Regions from separate parts of the Homo sapiens genome. Here region 2 is linked to region 1. Evidence: fine-mapped expression QTL. Tissue or cell type: lung. Region 1 holds a variant in brackets; the other region holds the start of a gene. All regions are shown on one strand. Distances are between the middles of the regions.

Region 1 (8,107 bases):
TTTTGTTCTTAACATTGTATATATCCCAAATACAGCAAACAGAATCTATTCCTGACCACATTTTTTTTCTTTTTTTTTGAGATGGAGTTTGGCTCTTGTTGCCCAGGCTGGAGTGCAATGGTGTTATCTTGGCCCACTGCAACCTCCGCCTCCTGGGTTCAAGCGATTCTCCTGCCTCAGCCTTCCAAATAGCTGGGACTACAGAAGTGCACCACCATGCCTGGCTACTGACCACAGTTTAAATTGTCACTGCTATGTGTCTAATGGGAAAGTCTAAAGAGGAGGCTTTCTGTTACCTGTTTCTTTAAAAGAGGAAGTGAAAGTAGTTCCATTGCCACAATACGATTAGTTAGAAGTCTCCATGTAATCATTTTATCAAATTTTTCCTTTCACATGACAGAGCCTCCTCAAAGGAGTCACAGAAATGAAAAGCTACAAAAGTACTGAAGAACAGTTGCACTTGAGCTGCTGTGAAATATAAATGAACAGTTTTAGTAACAGACACACAGAAGTGATGGAAAAAACACCTCCCTTACCCAACTAGCCAGACAACTGAGTCATCCCTGGCGATCAATGAGGTGGCACATCTGCCTGGACTATGGCATTCCTCAGTGAAAAAGTCATTCAGGCCAGGTGTGGTGGCCTGTAATCCCAACAGTTTGCGAGGCCGAGGCAGGCGGGTTGAGGTCAGGAGTTCGAGACCAGCCTGGCCAACATGATGAAAGCCCATCTCCACTAAAAATACAAAAATTAGCCAGGCACAGTGGTGTGTGCCTGCAGTCCCAGCTACTCGGGAGGCTAAGGCAGAAGAATCGCTTGAACCTAGGAAGCAGAGGGTGTAGTGAGTCAAGATTGTGCTACTGAACTCCACCCTGGGCAACAAAGCAAGACTGTCTCAAAAAAAAAAGAAGTCATTTAAAGCCTAGTTTGGACCTGAGCGAGTGAAAGTGAGTCCTTCACTCTGCCATTGATTTGCTAATTCCCATAGTTACTACACACTAGATGCCACCAACCCTATCCAAACCTCAATCACCAGCATACAGCTTGGTCTGCTAATTGAGAAAGAAAAACAAAGTCATTTTTTCCTGGCTACTCAAAGAAAAGAGTGCCTCTCCTTTTTTTTCTCCCACTTGACCACTGCATCCCTACTTCCTTTTATCTTCTCTGAGCTCCTCTGTTCCATTTTTTTCTTTCCTTCTATTTCCTAGCTCTTCTCAGGCAAAGGCGTTTCTGAGTCTCCCTCTCAAAAACCTCTTTCAGGCCAGGTGCAGTGGCTCACACCTGGAATCCCGGCACTTTGGGAGGCCAAGGTGGGTGGATCGCCTGAGGTCAGGAGTTTGAGACCAGCCTGGCCAACATGGTGAAACCCCGTCTCTACGAAAACACAAAAATTAGCTGGGCGTGGTGGCACGTGCCTGTTGTCCCAGCTACTCAGGAGGCTAAGGCAGGCGAATCGCTTGAACCTGGGAGGCGGAGGTTGCAGCGAACCGAGATCACACCATTGCACTCCAGCCTGGGCAACAAGAGCGAGACTTTGTCTCAAAAAAAAAAAAAAAAAAATTCTCTTTCCCATTCAGATTGACACTCCATTCATTCAGTAGCCACAAATCTCAAGAGTAAAACTAGAGACTAAAACTGGAGGAAACAGGTGAGAAGATGAGAAAGGAAAAGGGGCAGGGTTTTTTTTCACTTCATACTTCTCTTTAATATTTTAAAAATCATAAGTTTGTAATCTTTTATAATGAAACAACTTTTTTTCACATAGTGATCATATCCTTTCTCCATGTTCTTACCTTCCACACATTTCTCAAAATGCTGCTGCCAGGTTTTAGCCCAAACACTCCACCAAAACTGCGGTTGCAAAGGTCATGAAACCAGCTGCTGAAACCTATGACATCTTTTCAGTCCTTATTCTAGGTGATCTCTCTTGCAGTCCCTGACAAAGTTGCCCACTATTAAGAAATCCTGTGTCTCGGTTTCTAAAACACTATTCTCTAGGTTCACCACCTGTTCTTTTTAACTGTTTAATCTGGAAAATTTGAAACATATTTCAAAATGTTGTTTTCCCCTATATACCCACCCACTTATTCTCTACCATGGCAGCATTCTAAGAAAATCTCTATAACTCTAGATAAAAACTCCTTAGTATAATCCAAATATTGTTACTAACCTACAAAAACTAACAAGTATCTTCTCTGACCACAATGGAACAAAACTAGAAATCAGTAACAAGATGGACTTTGGGAACTACAAAAACACATGAAAGTTAACAATATGCCCCTTATTAAGCAGGGGGTCAATACAAAATTAAGAAAAAAATTGAAAAATTTCTTGAAAAAAATGAAAATAGAAACACAACTACTACCAAAACCAATGGGATACAGTGAAAGCAGTACTAAGAGGTGAGTTTATAGCAAGCAATAAGTGCCCACATCAAAAAAAGGAGAAAGGCGCTAAATGAACAAACTAATGATGCATCTTAAAGAACAAGAAAAGCGAGAGCAAACCAAACACAAAATTAGTAGAAGAAAAGAAGTAATAAAGATCGGGGCAGAAATGAATGAAATTGAAACAAAACACACAAAAGATCAACAAAATGTAAACTTGATTTTTTTGAAAAGACAAATAGTATCAACAAACCTTTAACCGGACTAAAAATAAAAGATACAAGACCCAAAGAAATCAAATCACAGATGAAAAAGGAGACAATACAACTAATACTGCAGAAACTCAAAGGATCATTAGAGGCTACGATGAGCAACTATATGCCAACAAATCAGAAAGCCTAGAAGAAATGGATAAATTCCTAGACACATACAACCTACCAAGATTGAACCATGAAGAAATCCAAAGCCTGACTAGAGTACTAACAAGTAATGAGATCGAAGCCATAATAAAAAGTCTCTCAGCAAAGAAAAGCCCAGGATCCAATGGCTTCAGTGCCATTTAAAGAAAAACTAATACCAATCCTACTCAAAATATTCCAAAATATGGAGGAGGAGGGAATAGTTTCAAACTCATTCTAAGACCCAGTAATACTCATCAGTATTACTAAAACCAGACAAATATGTCAAAAAGAGAGAAAACTACAGGTCAATATCTCTGATGAACATTGATGCAAAAATCCTCAACAAAACACTAGCAAACTGAATTCAACAACACATTAAAAAGATCATTCATCATGACCAACTGGAAT[T/C]TGTTCCAGGGATGCAAGGATGGTTCAACACATGCAAATCAATCAACGTGATATATCACATGATAGAACAGAATAAAACATGATACAACAGAATAAAGGACAAAAATCATACTATCATTTCAATTGATGCTAAAAAAAGCATTTGGTAAAATTCAACATCCCTTCATGACAAAAATCCAAAAAAAACTGGGGATAGAAGGAACATACCTCAACACGATAAAAGCCATATAAGACAGACCCACACCTAGTATCATACTGAATGGGAGAAAATTGAAAGTCTTTCTCTAAGATTTGGAACAAGACAAGGATGCCCACTTTCACCACTATTATTCAACATAGTAATGGAAGTCCAAGCTAGAGCAATGAGACAAGAGAAAGAAATAAAGGGCATCCAAATTAGAAAAGAAGAAGTCAAATTATCCTTGTTTGCAGATGATATCATCTTATATATTTGGAAAAACCTAAAGACTCCACAAAAAAACTATTAGAACAGATAAACTAATTCAGTAAAGTCGAAGGATATGAAATCACCACACAAAAATCAGTAGCATTTCTATATGCCACAGCAAATAATCTGAAAAAGTAATCAAAAAAGTAATTCCATTTACAGTAACTGCAAATAAAAAAATACCTATGAATAAGTATCACAAAAGAAGTGAAAGATCTCAGCCAGGCGCGGTGGCTCACACCTGTAATCCCTGCACTTTGGGAGGCCGAGGTGGGAGGATCACCTGAGGTCAGGAGTTCGAGACCAGCCTGACTAACATGGAGAAACCTCGTCTCCACTAAAAATACAAAATTAGCCAGGCATGGTGGTGCATCCCTGTAATCCCAGCTACTCGGGAGACTGAGGCAGGAGAACCACTTGAACCCGGGAGGTGGAGGTTGCAGTGAGCTGAGATCGTGCCATTGCACTCCAGCCTGGGCAACAAAAGTGAAACTCTGTCTCAAAAAAAAAAAAAAAAAAAAAAGTGAAAGATCTCTTTCTTTACAATGAAAATCATAAAATACTGATACAAGAAACTGAAGAAGACATACACATTAAAAAAAAAAAAGGAAAGATATTCCATGTTCATGGATTGGAAGAATCAATACTGTTAAAATGTCCATACTACTGAAAGCAATCTACAGATTCAGTGTAATCCCTATCAAAATACCAATAACATTCTTCACAGAAATAGAAAAAAATCATTGTAAATTTATATGGAACCACAAAAGACCCAGAATGGCCAAAGCTAGCCTGAACAAAAAGAACAAAACTGGAGGGATCACATTCTATGCCTTTAAATTATACTACAAACTGTAGTAACCAAAGCAGGATGGTGCTGGCATAAAAACAGACACATAAACCGATGGAACAGAAGAGAGAACCCAGAAATAAATCCATACATCTAGAGTGAACTCATTTTTTACAAAGGTGCCAAGAACATAACACTGGGGAAAAGACAGCCTTCAATAAATAAGACTGTCAATAAATAGTGCTGGGAAAACAAGATATCCACATGCAGAAGAATGAATGAAACTAGACCCCTATTTCTCGCCATATACAAAAATCAAATCAAAATGAATTAAAGACTTAAATCCAAAACCTCAAACTATGCAACTACTAAAAGAAAAAACTGTGGAAACTCTCCATGACACTGGTCCAGGCAAGTAATTCTTGAGTAGCACCCCGCAATCACAGGTAATCAAAGCAAAAATAGGTAAGTGGGATCACATCAACTTAGGTTTCTGCAAAACAAAGCAATCAAAAAAATGAAGAGACAACCCACAGAATGGGAGAAAATATTTGCACACTATGCATCTGACAAAGGATTAATAACCAGAATAGACAAGGAGTTCAAACAACTCAATAGGAAAAAAAAAACCTAATAATCTGATTAAATAATGGGCAAAAGATATGAATAGACATTTTTCCTTTTTTTTTTTTGGAAACGGATCTTGCTCTGTCACCCAGGCTGGAGTGCAGTGGCGTAATCTTGGCTCACTGCAACCTCTGCCTCCTGGGTTCAAGTAGTTCTACTGCCTCGGCCTCCCAAGTAGCTGGGATTGCAGGCACGTGCCACCATGCCCAGCTAATTTTTGTAGTTTTAGTAGAGACAGGGTTTCACCATGTTGGCCTGGCTGGTCTGGAACTCCTGACCTCAAGTGATCCGCCCGCCTCGGCCTCCCAAAGTGGTGGGATTACAAGCGTGAGACACCATCCCTAGCCCTGAATAGACATTTTTTTTTATTTTAGATGGAGTCTTGCTCTGTCGCCCAGGCTGGAGTGCAGTGGCACGATCTCGGCTCACTGCAAGCTCTGCCTCCCAGGTTCATGCCATTCTCTTGCCTCAGCCTCCTGAGTAGCTGGGACTATAGGCACCTGCCACCACGCCCGGCTAATTTTTTGGATTTTTAGTAGAGACGGGGTTTCACCATGTTAGCCAGGATGGTCTCGATTTCCTGACCTCAAGATCTGCCCACCTCAACCTCCCAAAGTGCTGGGATTACAGGCGTGAGCCACTGTGCCCGGCTCCTGAACAGACATTTTTAAAAGGAGACATACAAACGGCAAACAGGTATATGAAAGGGTGTTCAACATCATTGATCATCAGGGAACTGCAAATCAAAACTACATCAAGATATCATCTCATTCCAGTTAAAATGGTTTTTATCCAAAAGAGAGGCAATAACAAATGCTGGAAAGGATATGCAGAAAAGGGAACCCTCACATGCTGTTGGTGGGAATGTACTTTAGTACAGTCACTATGGAGAACAGTATAGAGATTTCTCAGAAAACTAAACACACACCTACCATATGATCCAGAAATCCCACCACTAGATATACACCCAAAAGAAAGGAAATCAGTATATTGAAGAGATATGTACACTCCCATATTTATTGCAGCACTATTCACAATAGCCATGATTTGGAAGCAACTTAAGTGTCTAGCAATACAATGGGAGTACTATTCAGCCACAAAAAAGAATGAGATCCTGTCACTTGCAACAACATGGATGAAACTGGAAGACATTGTGTCAAGTGAAATAAGCCAGATACAGAAAGACAAACCTTATGTTCTCACTCATTTGTGGAAGCTAAAAATTAAAACAGTTGAACTCATGGAGATAGAGAGTAGAATGATAGCTACCAGAAGCTGGGAACGATAGTGGTGGAGAGTGGGTACAAAACTATACTCACACAGAATGAGTAAGATCTAGTATTTGGTTCAAGACCACCCCGGGCAACACAGTGAGACCTCCATCTCTACAAAAAATTTTAAAAAACAGCCAGGAATGGTGGCTCAAGCCTGTAGTCTCAGTAGGCTGAGGCAGGAGGACTGCTTGAGCATGGGAGGTCAAGGCTGCAGTGAGCTGTGATCATGCTACTATACTCCAGCCTGAGCAAGAGTGAGACACTGTCTCAGAAAAAAAAAAAGGTTAGAAAAAGTAAAAAAGAAAAAAAAGATCTAGTACTTGATAGCACAACAGGGTAATTACAGTCAACAAAATTTATTGTATATTTAAAAATAACTAAAAGAGTATAATTGGAATATTTGTAACACAAATAAATGATAAATGCTTGAGGTGATGAATATCCCATTTACGCAACATGATTATGCACTGTATGCCTGCATCAAAATAGCTCATGTACCCCATAAACACATACACCTACTATGTATCCATTAAAATTAAAGTAAAAAATTAACAAAAAAAAGTCTGCCCATTTAAAATTTGGCCAAGTATTTCCAACTGTCCTCCAAAAGAGTTATGACACATACATTCATTCAACCAACAGGGTATCTTTCCTAATTTCTTTTTTTTTTTTTTGAGACGGAGTCTCGCTCTGTCACCCAGGCTGGAGGGCAGTGGCGCAATCTCGGCTCACTGCAAGCTCCGCCTCCCAAGTTCATGCCATTTTCCTGCCTCAGCCTCCCCAGCAGCTGGGACTACAGGCACACGCCGCCACGCCTGGCTAATTTTTGTATTTTTAGTAGAGACAGGGTTTCTCTGTGTTAGCCAGGATGGTATCGATCTCCTGACCTCAGGATCCACCCACCTCGGCCTCCCAAAGTGCTGGGATTACAGGCGTGAGCCACCGCACCCGGCCAATCTTTCCTAATTTCTTTTTTTTTTTTGAGACAGTCTTGTTGTTGCCCAGGCTGGAGTGCAGTGGCGTGATCTCGGCTCACTGCAACCTCCACTTCCTGGGTTCAAGCAATTCTTCTGCCTCAGCCTCCTGAGTAGCTAGGACTACAGGCGCCCACCACCATGCCCAGCTAGTTTTTGTATTTTTAGTAGAGACAGGGTTTCACCATGTTGGCCTGGCTGGTCTTGAACTCCTGACCTCAAGTGATCCACCTGTTTTGGTCTCCCAAAGTGCTGGGATTACAGGTGTGAGCCACCACACCTGGCCCTAATTTCTTAGAGATAATTACTAAATTCTGTATTTTCCAGTCCAATAGGTGAAAAGTAATGTCTCACTTTAATATTTCAAAACTTCTTTAATTATTAGTGATTTTTGAGCCTGTTATTTATGAATTGACTATTTATACCTCATTATGTAGATTTTTCATCTATTTCTTCTTGGCATTTATTGTACAATAGAGATAGTAATCCTTTGTTGTAAATGTTGCAAATATTTTCTCTCAGTTGTTACTATTCCTGTATACAACATTAGGAAAAGTCTTCTCTTTCCAAACTTTCTTTTTCAAAATTTTCCTGTTTATTGTTGAGCATTTATTTTTCCTGATGAAATTTTTGTCAGATTTAAAATCCTGTTGGAAATTTGGGAGAAATGTTTTCTTCACAGATTGATATGCAGGGAATTCACTTTGTATAATGTTGCTTTTTCCCAAACCATTCATTCAAGTTTCGTTTTATGACACTCAATTGAGTTTCTTGTTTCTTTATATAGTTTCTTCAAAT
Region 2 (8,107 bases), 32 kb after region 1:
TTTCTGAGGGTTTTTTGTGTTTGGTTTGGGTTTTTTGGCACCAGGCTAGCATGCTCTATTTTTTTCTCTCTTTGGCCAAGCTATGGATCAGCTGCCCTAGGATTAGGTGCCATGGCTGAAGCTCTAAGACCAATTAGCTAACATCCCCCCAACCCTCAAGATACCACTTGTATTTCCTCAGAACCATTACTAAAGTATATTGCTAAAATAATCTTGCATTTCTTTCAAAAACAAGTCTTGCCAAGACTTGTTCACAGTAAGAAAAATCCTACATACTTCTTCACTGAAGCAGCTATTCCAAATATGCAAAGAGTTAATCTTTTATTTCTAGATGTGCACAGAAGGAATCCTCTGTATTGTTATTACTACTTGACAGCAGCGGTTTAAAAAGAACTTTCACAAGCTTTCTGCAAAAATTTCCATACATATATAATGTAAAGAAATGAGCAGTCCAGATGTTGCCTTGTTAAAGTCTATCCCATAATAGCAAGTAATTTTATATAAGGATAAGCACATACATTGACAGTTTATCACTAATTAATGAAACCTGTTTCTCTTCCTCCAAACTACTAGCACTAGGTAATAACTGAAGGCCCCTCACTGAAAAGCTTCCTTGCTAGGAAAAGACGGGTGCAGGCCATGAGAAAGGCATCTAAGTAAGATGTGGTGTCCAATAAAATTGAATTTTCAGTGCTATTAATCTCTTGCTTAAAAACTAGATGTAAATTGGCTGGGCAAGATGGCTCATTCCTGTAATCCCAACACTTTGGGAGACCGAGGTGGGTGGATCACTTGAGGTCAGAAGTTGGGAGACCAACCTGGCCAACATGGTGAAAACCCGTCTCTACTAAAATACAAAAATTAGCTGGGCGTGGTGGTGGGCGCCTGTAGTCCCACCTACTCGGGAGGCAGCCGCAGGAGAATCCCTTGAACCTGGGAGGCGGAGGTTGCAATGAGCCGAGATCACGCCACTGCACTCCAGCCCAGGTGACAGAGCGAGACTCCATCTCCAAAAAAATAAATAAATAAAATAAAATAAAATAAAAATTAGAAAAAAATTAAATGTTATTAGATCTAGAGAGATTACACGTTTTCACTGAGATCAAGCTTAACAGAATAATAACACTATACACATCTTTGAAAAGAGAGGGCAATTTTTTCACTAAAAAAAATGCTGGCTATTAAATGAGTCAACATTCACTGGAAAGAAATATTGTTAGAAAAGGGTAGTGGAGCCAGGTACAGTGGCTCACACCTGTAATCCCAGCACTTTGAGAGGCTGAGGCAGGAGGATCACTTGAGCCCAGGAGTTTGGGATTAGCCTGGGCAACACGGTGAGACCTTGTCTCTATTTAAAAAAAAAAAAAAGAAAAGAAAAGTGTAGAGGGATAGAGGAAATGCTATGTAATAATGGCCCTTCAGAAGATTGGAGAGAAAAGAAAACTTTTTCAAATGCAGAATGTTCTCACATTTCTTGGTATAAAGGAAGGATTTTCTATTTTAAAATCAGGTAGGTGTTCTAGTTAGCCAACCTGTTTATTAACTATCCTTGTCCGTGACTCATTTTAGCTTCATCTATATTAATGAGCAGCTGACTATGTAATACCACAATCATCAGTTTAGACTATACAAACACATAATCTTAACATCTAATTTCAGAGGACAGGAATTTGGTACAATTTAGAGTGCTGATATTGTCTTTAAATGAGGCTTGAAATGAAGGTACCATTAGAAAGCTTTCATTGAGCAAAGACCAGTATACAATGGGCAAGAGGTTATTTGCGCCGCAGCAAAATTTCACAGATTTTAAAAGACAATGTTACCTTGAATGTCTTGGAAAAATTGCAGTCAAACACTAAAGAAGCTGTATGTCCTTATTCTCTTCTTTTTAATAACTGGAGCAATAAGCCAAGATAATTTGCTATCTAAATTCATGAAGTACAGCAAGACTTTGATTTCTTCTCAAAGGAGTTTACAATGATTTTCATTTACTAACTGGGCCTATTTACATGTGTCAAACTAATACAAATGGGAAAATAGAAGCACTAATTTCTTACCTTTCATAGACTCATTGGAGAAGATGATCTCAATTAATAAGAATTTATTGAAAGCCTTAGGGCCAGGCGCAGTGGCTCATGCCTGTAATCCCAGCAATTTGGGAAGCCAAGACGAGCGCATCATTTGAGGCCAGGAGTTCAAGACATGCCTGGCCAATATGGTGAAACCCCGTCTCTACTAAAAATACAAAAATTAGCCGGGTGTGGTGGCACATGCCTGTAATCCCAGCTACTCAGAAGGCTGAGGCAGGCGAATTGCTTGAACCCGGGAGGCGGAGAATGCAGTGAGCCGAGATTGTGCCACTGCACTCCAGCATGGGTAACAGAGTAAGACCCTGTCTCAAAAACAAACAAACAAAAATAAAATAAAAGAATAAAGTGAAACATCTCATTCATCAAATTACAGGTAAGGGTTTAAAAAAAAAAAAGCAAAGGAAGCTTTTTTCTCACCTTGCAAAGTTCATGGCTGACCATCCTCAAGTCAAAACAGCTCTTGTGACAACTACAAACTTTAAAAAATATCCACACGTTTCTTGGTACTGATTTAAAATAAAAACCTCCTTAATCAGTTTTACCTGCTTAAACACAAAGTTATCATACTGTCCAATATAACTCCAATAAACTACTCCTGCATACAGTCAAGCTAATAATAAACAGAGGCCAGAGGCTTCATGGCAGCAAATTTAAAAGTCCTTACATCAAGGACAAAAAACCAAACACCGCATGTTCTCACTCACAGATGGGAATTGAACAATGAGAACACATGGACACAGGAAGGGGAACATCACACCCTGGGGACTGTTGTGGGGTGGGGGGAGGGGGGAGGGATACCATTAGGAGATATACCTAATGTAAATGACGAGTTAATGGGTGCAGCACACCAGTATGGCACATGTATACACATGTAACTAACCTGCACATTGTGCACATGTACCCTAAAACTTAAAGTATAATAATAAAAAAAAAAGTCCTTACATCAAATCAATACAACATTTAGGGGCTCAGATTTTCTTTGAAATCAAAACAAGAGAGGTAGTTTGAGAGTTTGCTATCTTCACTGATCCTCTCAGGAATGTAAAAGTATGCATTAAAATTTCAACCTAGCACTGCTTGAGTTTTTTAAAGCAATTTACTTCTACCTGGACAAGCAGTAAGGCAAGCCAAAGTAGCTGGGTTTTCTGTGACTTCTCAGTCTCCAACCTTTATGGTCACACTAACATTTCACGTTTCTAATGCTCCTAAACATAATTATCTCAAAAAAAAATTCAAACCACAACTGAATTTAAAGGAAGGGGGGCACTTTGCGTCACTGATAGAAAATGATTTAACACAATGAACTTAGAACTGGGTTTTTTCTTGTAACCATAGTAAGGGAGTGAAGATCAGAGAATTTAAAACTGTAACTAGGCTAGTCTCCTCACCTTGCAGTATCTCACCCTATCGGGTAGTCGTTGAAACAACACTGAGAAAGAAAGGCTCACAAAATTTTGATTTACACACATGCAACTTAATCTTGACGACACGTAAGTACCCACTGCACGTCCCTGAAAACGCATCGACTTGATTCTTAAATACAACCCCTATGTCTAATATACTGGCAGTGCAGATACACTACGTGAACACAACGGGGATGGAGGTATATCTCAGAGAACCAGAGGCGTTAGGCCTGCTGGTAATCAAAACGGACAGCTAACTGAAGAAGTCCCGTTTTCTATCCCCACAGCAAACTGAGTTAACTAAGGCATCACTTGGAATCCTCAACTCGCAACCCCAAATACACCCAGACTTAAGGATGCAAGGCCCCTACAAAGCTCTCAGGAGGCGAGTCTCTCGTCCACACCAGGTGCACCTACTCTAACCCTAGCTTCCTTCTCGGACCCTACTCTGGCCCCTCGGCTCCCCGCACCGCCATACCTGGGGGCGCCCCCAGTACTGCATCCCCTTGCTTCGCCCCCACCCCTATCACTTCGTCACTCACCCTGAGTCACCGGAGCCGCCCGCCCGCCCAGCCCAATCCGCCCACAACACCTCCAGCCCCTCACCCTCCCCTCCTCCAGGCCGAGTGGAGCCGGCCTGTCCCCTCCCGCCCACCGCCCTGTCCCAGGACACTCACCCGCGGTAGTAGGCTTTCACCCGGACCTGGTGGGAATGGTCCCCGCTGCCGCCGCCTGCGACCGTGTGGGACATGGTGCTGCTGTCCCTCTGGGTCGGCATCTCCTCACTCCCCCGCCTCAACGCTGGAGGCCGGGGGTGCGGGGGGGCGCTTCGGGCGCCGTGGGGGACTCCGCCGCCTGCGCTTGCCGGAGAACCGCGGCCGTCCGCCCACCTACCTGCCCACCTCGCCCGCAGCGCCGACCCAAGGGTCGCCTCGCCGGAGCAGCCGGAACCGCGCGGCTCCTCCCACTGCCCGTAGGCGCCGCCGCCTCTACAGCCGCCCGGGCCCAAGACACCTCCTGCGTCGGTCCCTCCCACTTCGCTCGCTCCAAAGGCCCACATTCCGGGGTAGGGCGGGCGCAACCATCCAGCCAGCTCAAGGAGCCTCAATACCGGGCTGAACCATCCTTACGGGGGCAGAGAAAGGGGACAGAGGGAATGGGAGACGCTGATCATGGCATCAAACACGCCGAGAGGGGTGCTTTCACGCGAGCTGTGAAAGAGACAATGACCAGCTCTAGATCACTAAAGTCTCTTCCCTGCAGGGACAATGGTAGGGACAAATTCTACGACACCTCACCCTAGCCTCGCAACTTGGTCACGTCTGCGGTCGGCCGACTTGGCACCCGGGATAGATTTGCGTGCAGGTTTCTGGGATTTGGAGTCCTCATAGGATTCTGGGACTTGAGGTTCCTTGCGCGTAGGGTGCCGCGCCTTCCCGCTGGTGAAGTCTGTCTCTCCAGCGTGCTCCCTGGAGCTGTCGGGGTGGAAAACCTGGATCCAGCTTGGGCATCTGAAGGTCCTGGAAATGACTGGGCTTCCTCACGTTCTAGACTTTATTAACTGATGAAGTCTCCCTTCTTCTAATTGCATAAATCGTCTGAATTATACATGTCTTTTGGGGGAACAAGAATTTGGTTACCTGCTCAGCATAACCTCTTTTATGGAAATAATTTAATAACATATGTAACAAATATAATAAAGGAAGAAACTCAACCAGAAAATATGATGAAAAACCGATTTTTCTTCTTTGGGGGCCCCCATATCTAGGCCCTTGTAGACTGCCCTTGCATGGAACAAGAGCCCAATGAATACTTACCCAATCAAGTCAGTCAATCCAAGAGCATTTCATTCTGTAAAAACTGGCTTACCAAAGATTAGAAAGAATCGTCCTTGGCCGGGCGCGGTGGCTCAAGCCTGTAATCCCAGCACTTTGGGAGGCCGAGGCGGGCGGATCACAAGGTCAGGAGATCGAGACCATCCTGGCTAACACGGTGAAACCCCGTCTCTACTAAAAACACAAAAAATTAGCCGGGCGTGGTGGCGGGCGCCTGTAGTCCCAGCTACTCGGGAGGCTAAGGCAGGAGAATGGCGTGAACCAGGGAGGCGGAGGTTGCAGTGAGCCAAGACTGTGCCACTGCACTCCAGCCTGGGCGACAGAGCAAGACTCTGTCTCAAAAAAAAAAAAAAAAAAAAAAAAAAAGAATCGCTCTTGTAACCTAGTCTTTGACTTTCCTAGGATCTTGGCTCTGACACATAATTTACACTGCAACTACAGGTAGCATGAATCCAGCCCCTGCAGCAGTCCTGGTGCTGAAAGAGTTGGAATAATCAAAGAAATAGCTTTCTTTACGATGATAAAATAGGCTTGGGGGACTGAGTCATCAGTTATGTGTGACACTTCAGCGTGGTACGACATCCTCCAACTGCTACAGACTTGGATTATATACTCTTACTAAAAATTCCCCTTGAGTCAGGCAAAGTGCTACATGCCTGTAGTCCCAGCCTTTGAGAGGCTGAGGCTGGAGGATCACTTGAGCCCAGGAGTTCAAGGCCAGCCTGAGCAACATGGTGAGACCCCATCTCTTAAACAAACAAAAAAATCCCATTGAAAAACTTGGTATCAGGTTTTTCAGTAATTGGAGACCTGCATCAGCAAGTTTAATACGGAGCGATTAATTATGGAATATATTATAAAATATACGGGCACCTGTAATCCCAGCTACTCCGGAGGCTGAGGCACGAGAATCGCTTAAACCCAGGAGGCAGAGGTTGCTGTGAGCCTCTGAGACTGCACCACTGCACTCCAGCGAGACTCCGTCCCTGGGCAACACAATGCACAGTGAGATCCCGTCTCATTTTTTTAAAAAAAGATAATTCACATGCCATACAACTTACTCATTTAAAGTGTAAAATTTGATAGTTTTAAGTATCTTCACAAAGTTTTGCAACCATCACCTCTACCTAAATCCAGAGTATTTTCAGCACCCTGAAAGTAACTGCATATCCATTAGCAGTTACTCCCCACTCTCCTCAACCTCTGGCAACCAATAATATATTTTCTGTTGCTATGAGTTTTTCTATTCTGAACATCGCTAGTAGCTGGGACTACAGGCATGTGCCACCACACCCTGCTAAATTTTGTGTTTTTTGTAGCGCCGGGGTTTTGCCATGTTGTCCAGGCTGGTCTCAATCTCCTGGACTGAAGCCATCTGCCTGCCTCAGCCTCCCAAAGTGCTGAGATTACAGGTGTAAGCCACCATACCCAGTGAAGGTTTCAGTTTTTTTTAATGTCCTTGCCAATACTTGGTTTTTTTCCCATCTTCTTTATCATAACCATCCTAGTGGTTGTGAAGTGGTATCTCATTACAGTTTTGATGTACATCTCCCTAATGACTAATGATGTTGGGTATGTTTTCGTGTTTTTATTGGCCATTTATATATCTTCTTGGAGAACTATCTATTCAGATCCTTTAATCATTTTTAAATTGGGTTGTCTTTTTTCATTGAGTTGTAAGAGTTCTCTCTTTTCTTTTTTTTTTCTTCAAGACAAGATCTTGCTCTGTTGCACAGACTGGAGTGCATGGCATGATCACAGCTCTCCAACTCCTGGGCTCAAGCGATCCTTCCACTTCAGCCTACTGAGTAGCTAGGCCCATAGGCATATGCCACCACACCCAGCTAATTTGTTTTTCTCGTTTTTGTAGAGACTAGGTCTTCCTATAATGTCAAGGCTGATCTTCAACTCCTGGGCTCAAGTGATCTTCCCACCTTGACTTCCCAAAGTGCTAAGATTATAGGTGTGAGCCACCATGCCTGGCCAGAGCTCTTTATATATTCTGGAAATACATCTCTTATTAGATTATTTGCAAATATTTTCTCCCACTCTGTGCATTATCTTTTCATTTTTTTAATCTTTTCATATTTTTGATGGTATTATTTGCAGCATAAAAATTTTTAATTTTCACGAGGTCTAATTTATTTTGTTGTTGTCACGTATGGTTTTTGTTTGTTTTACTGTGTGCCAGACTATATGTTATATATGTTTTTAGTGTCATGTCTAAGAGGGCTTTGTGTAATCTAAGATCATGAAGATTTACACCTATATTTCCTTCTAGAAGTTTTATAGTTTAAACTCTTACTTTTTAGCTTATGATCCATTTTGGGTTAATTTTTGTGTCTAATGTAAGTGGTCCAAATTGATTTCTTTGCATGTGGATATTCAGTTATCCCACCATCATTTGTTGAAAAGACTATTTTTCTCCCATTTAATTGTTTGCACAATTGTCAAAAATCAAATGACCAAAATTTAAGGGTTTATTCCTGGATTTTAAATTCTATTCTATTGATTGATTTGTCTATCCTTTGACAATAATCACAGTGTCTTCATTACTGTAGTTTTTTAGTAACTTTTAAAACAAGGAAGTGTGAGTCTTACAACTTTTTTTTTTTTCAAGAGTGTCTTGGCTATTCTGGATCCCTTACATTTTCATGTGAATTTTAGGATCAACTTGTCAATTTCTTTAAGAAAGCCAGCTGAGATTTTGATAACGATTGCCTTGAATCTGTGAATCAGTTTGTGTGGTTTTTGTCATGTTAACAGTATTAAACCTTCC

What was found. PIP is the estimated chance that this variant, and not a neighbour inherited with it, causes the effect.
Region 2: PRKCI starts here. The variant in region 1 is fine-mapped to the expression of PRKCI in lung (TOPMed, PIP above 0.99).

What each region holds. Positions count from the first base shown.
Region 1 is chr3:170,251,116-170,259,222 of GRCh38, reverse strand. The region is part of intron 2 of PRKCI (protein kinase C iota); the gene reads right to left. Among named protein-coding and RNA genes, the nearest start is that of PRKCI, 33 kb to the right of the region's middle. The variant T/C (reference allele first, on the strand shown) is at 3,197.
Region 2 is chr3:170,218,834-170,226,940 of GRCh38, reverse strand. PRKCI (protein kinase C iota) reads right to left here and starts at 4,517. Exons shown (of 18, transcript NM_002740.6): 1 at 4,171-4,517. The coding sequence starts at 4,271. RefSeq lists a silencer at 4,157-4,446 and enhancers at 4,627-4,786, 4,797-4,856, 4,927-4,986.